Linked DNA regions of Homo sapiens: region 1 is linked to region 2. A link means that fine-mapping ties the variant in region 2 to the expression of a gene that starts in the linked region. Tissue or cell type: whole blood. Region 2 holds a variant in brackets; the other region holds the start of a gene. All regions are shown on one strand. Distances are between the middles of the regions.

Region 1 (6,391 bases), 27 kb before region 2:
TGGGCGACAGAGCGAGAATCTGTCTTAAAAAAAAAAAAAAAGCTAACATTTGTTGAGTCTGTCCTATGGGTTACTTTACAGCAACTATAAAAGGAAGGTACTGTTTTTCAGTTCCCCTGTTTATAAATGAGGACACAAAGGTAAGCAAGATTAAGAGCCTTGGCCAAGGCAGGCTGGGAGTCAAACCCAGGCTGTCTGAGTCCAAAATCGCAAATTTTCTCTTTTTCTTGGGTGGGGGGACCGAGTCTCGCTCTGTCGCCCAGGCTGGAGTGCAGTGGCGTGATCTCGGCTCACTGCAAGCTCCGCCTCCTGGGCTCATGCCATTCTCCTACCTCAGCCTCCCGAGTAGCTGGTACTACAGGTGCCCGCCATCACTCCCGGCTAATTTTTTGTATTTTTAGTAGAGACGGGGTTTCATTGTGATAGCCAGGATGGCCTCGATCTCCTGACCTCGTGATACGCCCGCCTCGGCCTCCCAGAGTGCTGGGATTACAGGCGTGAGCCACCGCGCCCGGCCAAAACCGCCATTTTCACTCTTGTGTTAGCCTTTAGTCCAAGCCCCTTATGATACAAGAGGGAAACTGAGGCCCAGGGAGGTATAACGGCTTTTCCAAGGTCGCACAGCCAGCCAGGGACACAATCCAAGCCTCTCGGCGACAGGTCCAGGGCTGCTTGGATTTCGGAGTGTGGTGGGGGCATCTTGGCGGCCTTTTTCCAGCCAACCCCCGCGGCCGGCCCGGCCCAGGCCCAGCCGGGTGAGCTGATGACTCAACGGGCAAGCACTGCATTTTGCGATCCTGGCTCGTCCCGCTGCTCTAGAGGGTTCCCAGCTCTCGGGCCGGACGGGCGGCAACTTGTCTGAGTGAAACCGGGAAAGCTCCGCCCCTCGGCGCTCAGCGGGCGGCGGGGGCGCCTCTCAGTCAGTCAGCGAGTCGTGGTGTCCGCCAGGCCTGGCGGGCGGCGGGAAACTCGCCGCGCGCGTTCCGCCGCTCACTTTCCCATTGGCCAGTCAGGCCCCCGGGGCGGTACCCTGGGGCAGCTCCCTCCTGTGATTGGGCGGTATTGGCCTCGGGCCCCGCCTCCAGTCCAGGGCTGCGAAGGCGGGACGGAGCAAGGCGGCTGCAGGTTCCGGCGTGTTGCTGGCTGCAGAGAGCTCAGGCAGCGGGCTCGGTAGGCACAGCTCCCAGCGGCCCTTCCCACCCAGCTCGTCCTTCCTCCCCTTCAGCCCGTTTCCTTTTGTCTCCATCTCCGAACTCTGTGGGACGTGACCCTCTCCTAAGATCTAGGCTTTTTTGGCGGCGCTATACCCCTTCCTCAGATCGTACTCCCCTCCGCTGAGATCTGAGCCCTTGATGAAACTGTGACCCGCCTGCAAATCGGGTGCTCAGTGCCGCTCACTACTGCGGCGCTGTCCTTAGATCTCACGCCGGAGACTTCACTATTTCCTGCCCCGCTCCACCAGAGCTCGTCAGCCTCCCGCGCCGTGGCTCCCACTCACCTCCCCTCAGCCCGGCAGAGGAGCCACGGCGCCTCCTGTGGGTTCACCCGACCCTCCCGGTCCCGTCCAGTTTGACTGGGGCCGCCGTGATGGAGAGAGCCGGACCCCGGCCTCACCTGGACTCAAAGTCTTGCGTGCGGGCCACTGAGCCACCTAGGGAGTTCAGGGCCCTAACTCAGAGGTCCAAAGTCAGGGTCTCTAAGTCAGATTCCAGTCCCACTCCCAGCCCATCGCCAAGAACTGGAAGAGAGACAGGAGGAGTGTCACAGGGGAACTTTATTGAGAGGAAACATGGTCACACCCAGCAGACATGCTTTCCCTCAATCTCGGTCTTGCACTGGCGCGCGCGCACACACACACACACACACACACACACACACACACCCATCTCCAGCCCCTGCCACTGTCCAGTTCTCAGCCACAAGGCGGGACACTCCTCAATTCCTACGATCAGAGGCAGCAGGGGCAGGAGGGAGGCAAGAGGAGGGGAGAAGTAGCCTGGTCCTGGGGTCGGGAGGAAGCGGGTGCGGAGAGCAGGGGTGGGGGCATGACCAGTGGTTAGGTGCGCTCAACAGCTGCAAGAAGAGTGGGATCCCCAGCCCCAGGTGGCCTCAGCTCTGCCAGTCCCTCTCCACGGAGCCCTTTGGAGCAAGAACAGCGCCTAGGGGAGAAGGGTGGGGCCTCCCACCCCATACTAGTCCTCTCGGCAGGGTGGGGGACTGGAGGGGGCAGGGCGGGGCGGTGGCGGGCAACACTCAGCTCTGGGGCTCCTGGGGAGCCTCGCCCCCCTCTTCCCCGGCGTTGTCGGCCGTCCACAGTGTCAGGTTGTCTCGCAGCAGCTGCATGATGAGGGTGCTGTCTTTGTAGGAGTCCTCGCTGAGGGTGTGCAGATCAGCCATGGCCTCGTCGAAAGTGGTCTTGGCCAGAGAGATGGCCTCCTCGGGGCTGTTGGCGATCTCGTAGTGGAAGACGGAAAAGTTCAGGGCCAGGCCCAGGCGGATGGGGTTGGTGGGCGGCATCTCCTTCTTGCTGATGTCCATGGCCTCCTGGTAGGCTGACCGGGCTGAGTCAATGATGCGCTTCTTGTCGTCACCGGTGGCCACCTCGGCCAGGTAGCGGTAGTAGTCACCCTTCATCTTCAGGTAGAAGACCCGGCTCTCGGCGTCCCCGGCCTCCTTGATGAGGTGGCTGTCCAGCAGGCCCAGCACGGTGTCGCACACGCCCTGGAGCTCAGTCTCCACCTTCTCCCGGTACTCACGCACCTCGGGCCCCTTCTCCTCCGAGCCCTCCTCGTTGCTTTTCTGCTCAATACTGGACAGCACCCTCCAGGCAGCCCTCTGGCCGCCCACCACGTTCTTATAGGCTACTGAGAGCAGGTTTCGCTCTTCGCAGGAGAGCTCCTCGCCCTTCTCCACGGCGCCTTTCATGAAGGCTGCCATGTCCTCATAGCGTTCGGCCTGCTCTGCCAGCTTGGCCTTCTGGATCAGACTGGCTCTCTCCATGGCTCTGGGGACACACAGGCGGGCGGCGGGCTAACTGCTGCCTGGGACCAATGCCGGACTCTGTGTCTCTCCTGCTCTTGGCCTGCCTTTTGGCTGGGTGGCCAGGCCCAGAGAAGGGTGGGGAGGAGCAGGGGGCGGGACCAGGGCCCAAGACCTGCCTCCCTCTCCTCTCTTCCCCACACCCTTTCCGGCTCTGCAGTAAAGGTAAAAAGGCTGGGATGTGGGGGTGAATCATCAGAACAGTCAGCAGGAGAAATCTGGGCGTGGGCCCCACCTGCACTGGCACCTTTCCAGGCTCCAGGCTGCCCCCTCTTGTTCGGGGCTGGCATCACATGGCTGCCCACATCAGGAAACGGCTTCTCAAATCAGATCCACTTTCACAGTGCCCTTCCAGGGGCTAAGGACGGCTTTAGCCCCTGGCTGCTTCAGCCTCGACAGAGCCCATAAAGGTTCAGGAGGATGGGGTTCCTAATCCTGCCAGGTAACTTCCCCCCTTGGTTCAGGTGAGGATAACTCATGTTTAGGTAGGGCCATGGAGTTTCCCAAGCACTTTCATATTCACGATCGAATTTAATCCCCACCATGTCTCTGTGACACACACAGGACCATAGAGATGGGAACACTAAGTCTCAGAGAGGGGTGAGATTTGCTCAAAGTCACATAGCCACCAATTCCCTGAAACTCCTTTCTGCACCCTCTTCCTTTAGCTTTTCTCCCATTGAGGCCTCTGACCTATGAGCTCCAGACTGTGTTTGGAAGTGAGATCCAGGCTCCTTCTCAGTCTACCTGAAGATGGTTCCATCCTCCAGGCCTCATTCCCCCTCAGGGTCCCCTCTGAGCTCCCAGAATGCGCAGGTGGCAGCTTTCAGAGTGCCGCTTAATGAAGTGTTTAACAAGCAGCCTCTGAAGCTCCAGCCCAGCCTTTGTAATTAGTCACCCAGTAGGTTTGTTGGACACATTTCCCATCACTACACAATTTTCCCTTTCAAGTTGGTGGCCTGTTGCCACTTGTTTGAGGATTTACCCTCTGGCCCTCCACGCCAGGTCACCTGCCCTCTCCAAGCCACATGCCATCAGGTACCAGCGGGGCTCACAGAGGGTGGGGTCCAGCTCCCCGGCTGTCCCACTTTCCTGCCTGACTCAGACTGCTCTCTGTCTGAGGCTGGGAAGCAGTCCAGTTTGATCCCCCAGGGGGGACGCTAGCAACCTGGGGAGAGAGAGGACTGAGAAAGGGAGGTGGCAGTGACACATACCATTCTGTTTTATGGGGCAGCAATTCCAGCTACGTGATGCCTCCCCCAGCCTGTTTCTCAGAAGTTTACTTGTTCTTTCCTTTTTTTTTTTTTTAAATAGAGAGCAGATCTCACTACATTGCCCAGGCAGGTCTCAAACTCCTGGGCTCAAGCGATCCTCCTGCCTCAGCCTCCCAAAGTGCTGGGATTATGGGCATGAGCCACTGTGCCTGGCCTGTTCCTTCCTTTTGACCATTGCCCCATCTCTGACCCCTGGCAGAGTCCTCAGAGATGGAGACCTCTGTTGCCAACGTTCTTTCCCTGCTTGCCGGAGCCCTGGCCTCAAGTTTCATCAAGAGTTTCACCTAAGGGTGTTGGCATTGAGCCTATAGGGATGGATTCCTGCTTATCTGCCCCACCCATAGCCAAAGCTTAGATGGGGCTCAGAGGTAGGGCTCCCTTCACTGGGATTCTGCCGACCTAATAGTTGAGCCAGGATAATTTCACAGGCCTGTGTCTCCCCCAGCTACTCTGAGTGTCTGAACACTCATCTTCCCTCCTGGAGGGAGGCTTAGGCCAGAACTCTGGGGACCAAAGACGAGATCCTTCTCTTTGCCACAAGGAGGAGTAGGGACATGTCTGGGCTAATGCTACAGGGTTTCCAAGGAAGTAAAGGGGATTTTAAGTTTGACGTCCCAAAGATTTTGCTCAAATCAGAGAACTGACACAGAAAACAATAGGAACCACACTAAAATACCAACTTCTAGAGGGTATCTTGAGGTAGTGAGAGTGAGTGATTTTGCTTCCCTTTGATTTTCTTTCTTCTCAATTTCCTTTTTAGAGATAGGGTCTTACTCTGATGTCCAGGCTGAAGTACAGTGGTATGATCACAGCTCACTGCAGTCTCAACCTCCTTGGCCTCAGGTGATCCTCCTGCCTCAGCTTCCTAAGAATAAGGTGCTCACCACAACGCCCAGCTAATTTTTGTATTTTTTTGTAGAGACAGGGTCTCACCATGTTGCCCAGGCTGGTCTCGAACTTCTGGGTTCAAGCAATCCTCCTGCCTTGGCTTCCCAAAGTGCTGGGATTACAGGTGTGAGTCACTACACCTGGCCCTTTTGATTTTCTTATTCTCTCCAATTTATAAATAGTGAATATAGGTCGGACGCGGTGGCTCACGCCTGTCATCTCAGCACTTTGGGAGGCTGAGGTGGGTGGATCACAAGGTCAGGAGATCGAGACCATTCTGGCTAACCCAGGAAAACCCTGTCTCTACTAAAAATACAAAAAATTAGCCGGGCATGGTGGCACATGCCTGTAGTCCCAGCTACTCGGGAGGCTGAGGCAGGAGAATCGCTTGAACCCGGGAGGCGGAGCTTGCAGTGAGCCGAGATGGCGCCACTGCACTCCAGCCTGGGTGACAGAGCAAGACTCCGTCTCAAAACAAAACAACAACAAAAAAGTGAATATGTATTGTTTGTCTATGAGATACAGAATAGACTAGTATCTTTGGAATCAGACTGCCTAAATGTAATTCTTATAGCTGTTTGTGGCCTTGGCCAAGTGATTTAAGCTCTGTGAGCCTCAGTTCCTGTAACTATAAAATGGGACTTGTGAGGATTACACGAGTTAATGGAAAGCACAGTAGAATGGATGGCAACTATTATTATTATTATTTTCTTTTTTTTGAGACGGAGTTTCGCTCTTGTCACCCAGGCTGGAGTGTAGTGGCACAATCTCAGCTCACTGCAACCTCCACCTCCTGGGTTCAAGTGATTCTCCTGCCTCAGCCTCCCGAGTAGCTGGGATTACAAGGGTGCACCACCACACCCAGCTAATTTTTGTATTTTTTTTTTTTTTAAGTAGAGATGTGGTTTCACCATGTTGGCCAGGCTGGTCTCGAACAGCTGACCTCAAGTGATCCACCTGCCTCAGCCTTCCAAAGTGCTGAAATTATAGGCATAAGCCACCATGCCCGGCCAGATGACAACTATTATTATCATGTGAAAAAATCCCGTCAACTTTATTATGATCAACATATACTCACAAAGCACTAACATAGAGTTAGGTTCTGTGAAATGAGGAAGGACCCCAAGCCAGGACTTAGCCAAAGGCCAGACCTTCCCAGCTGGGTGTCTACAGGGGAGAGGAAGCAGTTT
Region 2 (8,260 bases):
AAAGGAGGCTCTGCAGGGGCTGCACCCTTCATGGGGGAAGACAAGCAGCTCTCCCATTGCTGATTCTCAGACCGGACAGTGCTGACCCATCACCGCCCCAAACTCAGCCTCAGAATCCTCCTCAACCTGCTCCTCCTGGCAGCCACTACCGATGGCAGCTTGTTAGCACCTGGAGCAAGTCCACTCTCCATTCCTGACCAAAAGACTCAAGTCTCTTCAGTTTCAATAGAGAAAAGTGACTTACAAAGTGTGCTGACATTCCTAGTCTCACTCAATCACAGAGACTGCTCTGGGCTAGGCAAGGGGATCCGTGCCTGTGAGTTACAGATGGGAAAGCAAGTTCACTCCAATAATAGAAGGTGGGGCTGAAACTAGGACCCTTGTCTTCCAGGGCACTCATTTGTTCACTCTTTCACACATGAGCACCTACTATGTGCAAGTTACTGTACAAGGCCTGGGGGTGGCAGGGAAGGTAAGGGGCAAATTCATAGAAATGAGTCAAAGATATTGGTTTTGTTCACCCTGTGCCTGCCTGACATACTGTGGATGTTCAAAAAATATTTGTTGTAGAAAAGAAGAAAGAAGGGAGTGATGGTAAGTGATGCTATCCCTGCCCTCAGGGAATCTAAGATCTACTCCAGGGCTGTTTCTGCTATGCCAGGCTCTTCCCAAGTAAAAAGGTGCCCTTATGCCAGCAAGGCCCTCCTGCTGCCTTCCAGGCAGAAACCAAAGCTCTGAGGATGTGAAAATGAGACGAAAAGCAAGGCTACTCGTCACTGAATGGCTGTGAGGGCAAAGGAATTTCCCCACCCTAAGACAGCTCTCGGAGAGGAGCAGGCAGGCCTTCTGCGGTCAGAGCCTGAAAGGCTGGGGCTGTGGAAGTTCCCCAGGGCTGGCTGCGGGCTGCTGAGAAGGCCCTGACTGCCCTCTGCCCTTCCACTGTTGTCACCTGCAGAGGAAACAGCTGCAGGACTGCAGTCTCCCCGCCTCTAAGGCCAGCTCAAGGTCAGCCACAGCTCCCAGGCCTCGAGTGCTAGGTCACCATAACCCTCCCAGACCACTTCTGTCCATCTCTGGGGTTCATGGGGCCTTCACCACATACCAGGCTTAGTGCTAGGCCTGTGGATACAGGAAGAGCCCGCCTGAGGGCAGAGTCAGACAGAAGTGGATAATTAAGAGTCCTCCTACAAGGCAGTGCCTCTGTGTGGTGACTCTGGGCCTGCCTAATCTTATTTTGAACCCTGGCATGGCCAATTGTTAGCCTGTAAACTTAAGAAGCTGATCAATCTCTAAGCCTCACTTTCCTCACCTGTAGAATGGGTAATGATGACATCAACCTTGTAAAATTTTACACAAATCAGAAATAACATAATATCAAGATCTGACCTAAATAGCTATTCAATTAATGACATTACTGGTGCCTATACTCAATGCCTCAAGAACACAGAGGGAAATATGTGGGGTGGAGGCAGGAAGCAGCATTCAAGAAAGCAACAGGCCGAGTGCAGTGGCTCGTGACTGTAATCCCAACACTTTGGGAGGGTAAGGCTGGAGGACTGCTTGAGTCCAGGAGTTTGAGAGATCAGCCTGGGCAACACAGCAAGACCCTGTTTCTACAAAAAATAATTTAAAAAGAAAGCAAGGGGCCAGGCACAGTGGCTCACACCTGTAATTCCAGCACTTTGGGAGGCTGAGGCGGGCGGATCACCGGAGGTCGGGAGTTTGAGATCAGCCTGACCAACATGGAGAAACTCCATCTCTACTAAAAATACAAAATTAGGGTGCATGGTGGTGCATGCCCATAATCCCAGCTACTCGGGAGGCTGAGGCAGGAGAATCGCTTGAACCCGAGAGGCAGAGGTTGTGGTGAGCCGAGATCTCACCACTGCACTCCAGCCTGGGCAACAAGAGCAAAACCCTGTCTTAAAAAAAAAAAAAAGCAAGCAACAAAAGAAGTAACAGCAAAGCTGGATCAGAAAGAATGAGCACTCTGGCTCACCACGGCAGGCGGGGACAGCACAAGCACAAGCAAACGCACTGAGGCATCCAGTGCACAGCGTGGCTGGGGGTGCCAGGGACCAGTAGGAGAAGAGCAGTGGCTGGGGTAGACTGCAGCTTGCCTTAATCTCATGAGTGAGTTTTCAAGAAGATAGAAGAGGGGCTGGGCACGGTGGATCATGCCTGTAATCCCAGCACTTTGGGAGGCTGAGGCAGGTGGATCACCTGAGGTCAGAAGTTCAAGACCAGCCTGGCCAACATGGTGAAACCCCATCTCTACTAAAGATACAAAAATTAGCCAGGCATGGTGGTGCATGCCTGTAATCGCAGCTACTTGGGAGGCTGAGGCAGGAGAGTCACTTGAACCCAGGAGGTGGAGGCTGCAGTAAGCTGAGATCACACCATTGCACTCCAGCCTGGGTGACAGAGCGAGACTCTGTCTCAAAAAATAAATAAATAAATAAATAAATAAATAAATAATATACATAATATATTAAATATGTTAAATATATTATACATATTAAATATATGTTAAATACATATTATGCATATTAAATATAGATGTAAAATGTATATTATACATATTAAATATGTTAAATATATTATACATATTAAATATGTTATATATTATACATATGTAGTAAATATATAAATGTATATTTTATATATATATATATATATTTTTTTTGAGACAGAGTCTCACTCTGTCGCCCAGGCTGGAGTGCAGTGGCGCCATCTCGGCTCACTGCAAGCTCCGCCTCCCAGGTTCACACCATTCTCCTGCCTCAGCCTCCCGAGTAGCTGGGACTACAGGTGGCCGCCACCACACCCAGCTAATTTTTTTTGTATTTTTTTTAGTAGAGATGGGGCTTCACCTTGTTAGCCAGGATGGTCTCGATCTCCTGACCTTGTGATCCACCTGCTTCGGCCTCCCAATGTGCTGGGATTACAGGCATGAGCCACTGCGCCCAGCTGCATTTAATATATATTTAATGTATATGAAATATATATATTATACATATATATTTAAAGATGAGCCATTTAGGAGGAAAATACTAAAGAAATGAAGGTACAGCCAGATGCGGTGGCTCATGCCTGTAATCCCAGCACTTTGGGAGGCTGAGACGGGCGGATCACAAGGTCAGGAGATCGAGACCATCCTGGCTAACACAGTGAAACCCCGTCTCTACTAAAAATACGAAAAATTAGCTGGGCGTGGTAGCAGGTGCCTGTAGTCCCAGCTACTCGGGAGGCTGAGGCAGGAGAATGGCATGAACCTGGGAGGCAGAGGTTGCAGTGAGCTGAGATTGTGCCACTGCACTCCAGCCTGGGCAACGGAGCAAGACTCCGTCTCAAAAAAAAAAAAAAGAAAAAAAGAAAAAAAAAGAAATGAAGGTACAAGGCGGGATGCAGAAGGAAAAATCACAAAGGCTGGACTCATATCACTGATATGCTGAGGGCACCAGAGAGTCACCCAAATTCTGTGGGGTTTGTGGGGGGACAGGGCAGGGGTGGGGAGAACAAATTTGGGATCTTGGAGAGATAACTACAATTGAAGGGAAAGGCCCAGTCAGGGCCTGTTCTGCAGAGCCCTGAGCCAGTTCAGGTGGAACACGAGGCAGGTCTGTCCAGGGGAAGTGGGCAGAGACGTCCTGGAGACAAAGGAGATGGGGTCTGGGAGCTGGTGTATGGCAGTGGAGAGAGACGCAGCCTCTGTGTCCGTCATGTGAACTGTAACAGGGTCTAAGTGAGCATCTGTCACTTGGATTTGGATGTCTCTATCACCTCCCATCAGACCAGGAGCTTCTGGGAGCAATATTGCTCTTCCCAACTGCCTAGAGCCTGCAGGGTGAGCCAGCTGCACAGCCCACCAGCCGGCAAGACAGGATCTCAGATGAGGGTGACCGAGTGCCCTGATTTTCCTGGGATTGAGTGGTTTCCTAAGACAGGAGACTTTCCAGGTGGTCCTGGGTAAACTGGGAGGAGCTGGTCACTCTACCTCAGACTGTCCCCACAGGGCAGGAGCCCTGGGCCAGACCTGTTGGGCTGGAGTTGCTGGGCTGGGGTGCCAAAGGGAAAAGCCCACACTGTCTACATGAGCCTAGGACCAGGTAATCAGTTCATGCTCACATGAACAGCACCACCTGCCTCAGAGACAGCTCCCAACCTTCTGGAAAAGGTTCAGTGATCTTAGTCCTGATCATTTTCGGGGAAATATGTTTTTGGTTTTTTTTGTTTTTTGAGACGGAGTCTTGCTCTGTCACCAGGCTGGAGTGCAATGGCGCAACCTTGGCTCACTGCAACCTCCGACTCCCTGGTTCAAGCGATTATTCTGCCTCAGCCTCCTGAGTAGCTGGGATTACAGGCACACGCCACCATGCCCAGCTAATTTTTGTATTTTTACTAGAGACAGGGTTTCACCATGTTGGCCAGGATGGTCTCAATCTCCTGACCTTGTGATCCGCCCGCCTCGGCCTCCCAAAGTGCTGGGATTACAGGCGTGAGCCACTGTGCCAGCCCTGGGAAATATGTTTTACTTTAATTAGTTAGAAGTCTCCTGGTCACACCCAAAAATTTGGCTTCTATTCAAGTTTGAGAATTCAAAGGCCTCCAAAATGCCACTTTTGCACTTTGCACCTGTTCGCCAAGAAAAGTCTTAGGGACATTCAGCGCCCTACAAGATTGATTCCACCCCATCCTTCCAACTGGAATATCTCTAATATCCCTAACTATCTGAAGTGCTCCTCATATTCTAGCCAAC[G/A]TGGCCTGCTCAGTGGCCCGTTCCCATCCCTCCTCCTTCCCTCTGCCACTCTCTCTTCCCTCAGCTTTGTCTGCCTGAAGGGCTGCCTCCGCACAGCTCCTGTGCTTGAATTCCACCCAAACTTAAAGACTTAGCTCAAGCATCACTTCTCCAGGAAGCTTCTCCAGTCCCCCAGGCAGAAGATGCTCCTGACTCCTCTGACCCTCTTCTAAAGCCTGATCTCACTGGCAGTGGCTGGTCAGGGCTCCCACCTGGGGCCAACTTGTCTGGAACCCATGAGAGTAAGCTCCTATCAGATTCATTGTTGGCCCCCACCTGCCTTCACTCTGCTGTCAGGGGTCAGCATATAGAATTAACACACAAATGAACAAACCCATGATGCCCAACTGGGAGATGTCCTGACTGTTTCCTCACCTGTCACCCTGACAGAGCAAGGAGGGCCTTCACAGAAGCTCACCTATTCTTCAGTCATTCATTTACTCATTTAGCCAACGTCACTGAGCCTTCTACATGGCGACAAGGTGAACAAGATGCTGGAATTCCATGCCCTCACAGGCCAGCAGAAAGGATGATTTTGTAATGACCACCGTTGCAGCACAGGTTCAGAGAAGGAAGGAGAAGGTGCTCTGGGAATGTGCAATGGAAGGCCTGGCCCAACTGGGGTCAAGAAGGCTTCCCAGAGCACAGGAAACAAGTGGAGAAGAGGATGAAGGAGATGTGTCCCTGCTGCCATCTCAGAAGAGAAAGCAAGGGGTTTGGGAGTGAAAGGCACACACTCTGTCTCTGCTTCTTTATCCTGGCCCTGTGATCACCTGCCTCCGTTTCTCCATCAGTACAATTGGTTAACAGGGTCGCCCTCACTGGGCTGTTGTGAAGATTTGTGGGGATAATAGATGGAAAGCACTCAGCACACGGCCAAGCTCTTTCCAAGAAGGGGATTACTGCTGTCACTGTGATCCACGCAGCTCACAGGAGGCCGAGGATTCCAGGCAGCCAGACCTCTGGGTCCGGCTGAGCTGGACAATAATCCTGCCTCATGATTAGCCCTGACCAGAAGGGGAGGAAGAACGGGGCACAGCTGGGCCTCCCCAGCTGCCAGGTGGGCCAGCCCAGGTCAGACCGTGGGATCCTGAAGGAGTGGCCAGGGACCCAGAGTTTGAAGGGGTAGGACGCTGGATGTAGGTGAGAGGAGGTGGCCCTCGCAGGCGTGGCTGAGGATGGGGCTGGGCAGAGGAATGAGACAAAGAGCAGACAGAGCCCAGAGAACATCCTCTCCAGCTGCTCGCCCTCCCTCCCTCCCTGCTGCACAGAGTATTAGTGAAATGATTTCTAGCGATGGATGCAGCAGGGCTCTGACATTTACAGGCCACTAGATGTCTTCAGGGCCAGCTGGGTGTTTAAAAGCCTGTGTGAACACCATGCTGTTAGGGGAAGGAGCTAACCACGGACCGGAAACCCCCGAGGTGTGCAAGTAGCCACGTCACTTCTCAGCAGGAAGAGCTGGGGTGCAGCAAGCTGAGATTAGGGACCTGGCCCAGTACCCCGCCACCCCGGAACCCACACAGCAGTCTGAAAGGAATCAAGGGCCACCTGGGCTGCCTGGGAGCACAGGGTCTTTCCAGCCACTGCCGTTCCTCACACACGCCCAGGCTGTTTGCCACTCTGGGCTTTGGCCTTACTTTTCCCAGATCCCCGTATTTCTACCACACTCATCTCCAGTGCCGCCTCCTCCTAGAGGTCTCCCCTGACCACCTGACCTAAACTAGCCCACTCCCCAACACCTACTGGGCTCTTCCCTAGATAACCCCACCGTCAAGCCCTCATCTGTTCAGGCCGGTGCTTCTTTGCTCAGATGTCACCTCCTTCACAAGATGTTCCCTGGCCACCCTATGTAAAATCACACACCCTCCCTGTAGCCTTCATCCTCCTTCCCTCCTTTCTTCTCTGTCTGATATCCTAGATATTTAATTATTTGTTATTTATTGTCTCTTTCCTCCTCCTCAACTGTCAAGCTCCATGAGGACAGGGACTATTGTCAGTTTTGTTCACTGCTGTATCACATCTAGAAAAGTGCCTGGCACATAGTAGGGGGTCAATAAATGTTTGATGAGTGAATGAATAAGTGTATATGAATGTTTAAGAGCAGGTGCTCTAGACTGAGGTCTCATCTCAGCTCTTCTACTTACTTTGTGATCTTGGACCCTCTTTTGCCTTGATTTAATTAATCAGTAAAAGGAGAATGACAACAGTACCTACCTCATAGGATTACTGGGGGATTAAATAAGATCATGCATATAAAGAGCTTAAAACAGTGCCTAGCCCCCAGGAACTACTCAGCTCCACGCTGGCTGCCATCGGGGCCTTTGCTGGCTGGCCAGCATTTCTTGCTTACTTATTTGCTCACTTGTTGATCATCTGTCTCCCTCTGTGCCAGTGTCAGCTCCAGCCTGCCTTGCTCACGACTGCATCCCCAGTTCCTAGTATAGTTTTGGAAGAGAAAACCAGGCCTCCTCCCAAGTCAGGGAATGTGGAGCTATGGAGACCCAGCTTCAGCTGGGAGTAGAAACCTCACCGATCTGTTTCTCCAGGGCGGCTGCTTCACAGACAGTGGCCCGGGGCAGGATCCCAGGGTCGGTGAAGCTTGTCTGCAGCAGGCAGCTCATGACGAAGAAGAAGAGGATGGCAGCGATGATGGGGATGGCAAGGGTCAGCTTGCGAGCCAGGTAGGGACAGCTAGAACGAGAGATGGAGAGAGATCAGCAGACACCCCAAGGGCTCCCTGCGGCACAGGGCTACAGCACGTGGCAGGCGCTGTCATTCCAACAACCACCACCAAAATCTTGAATACAGCCTCGCTCTGAGGCAGAGGCACAGCTCCTTGATGAGTGCAGCCACTCCCCAATAAGTACCGGGAACAGACATCACTAATTGATCCTTGTGATATACTTTCCTCCAGAGCACATGGCAGATGTGTCCAATAGATCCCAGCACTCCTAACCTCTGCATCCAGAGAATCCCTCTACACACAGAGCTTCAGGCAGACACTAGTGGACTGTCACCTGAGACAAACCATCCTGCAGTGTTCATTCACTCATTCATTCACTCACTCAGTCCACAAATATTTACTGAGGTCTTCTCTGTGGCAGGCAACACCTTCAATAAGCAGCAGGAATAATGACGACGGATAAGACAAGAGTCCCTCCCCCTTGTGGCTTATGGTCTAGTGGGGAAAACAAGACATGTAAACAGGGAATTGCCACACAGGGTGATGTGTGCTCTAGTGGGGGAGGGGAACGCAGTAGCACAGTCAGGAAAGGCAACCTGAAGGAGACAATCCTAAGCTCCAACCTGAAGAATGAGTAGAGGGCTGGGGGAACTGCATGGTCCAGCCACTGTCACTGTGACCCAAGGTAGGCAGGTATCCCCAAGGCAGTGCTTTCAGACCCCCTGACCCTGGCTGCCTCAGAGAATAGCCTGTGCCTGCTGAATGGTCATGCCTCT

Evidence for each region. PIP is the estimated chance that this variant, and not a neighbour inherited with it, causes the effect.
Region 1: SFN starts here. The variant in region 2 is fine-mapped to the expression of SFN in whole blood (TOPMed, PIP above 0.99).

What each region holds. Positions count from the first base shown.
Region 1 is chr1:26,859,822-26,866,212 of GRCh38, reverse strand. It overlaps SFN (stratifin), which reads right to left and starts at 3,064. Exons shown (of 1, transcript NM_006142.5): 1 at 1,757-3,064. The coding sequence starts at 3,000. The coding sequence ends at 2,254. RefSeq lists enhancers at 706-1,015, 1,226-1,355, 2,500-3,379 and a silencer at 3,249-3,398.
Region 2 is chr1:26,831,679-26,839,938 of GRCh38, reverse strand. It overlaps ZDHHC18 (zDHHC palmitoyltransferase 18), which reads right to left. Exons shown (of 8, transcript NM_032283.3): 2 at 7,332-7,492. Among named protein-coding and RNA genes, the nearest start is that of ZDHHC18, 9.1 kb to the right of the region's middle. RefSeq lists enhancers at 490-809, 970-1,239, 6,111-6,210. The variant G/A (reference allele first, on the strand shown) is at 4,760.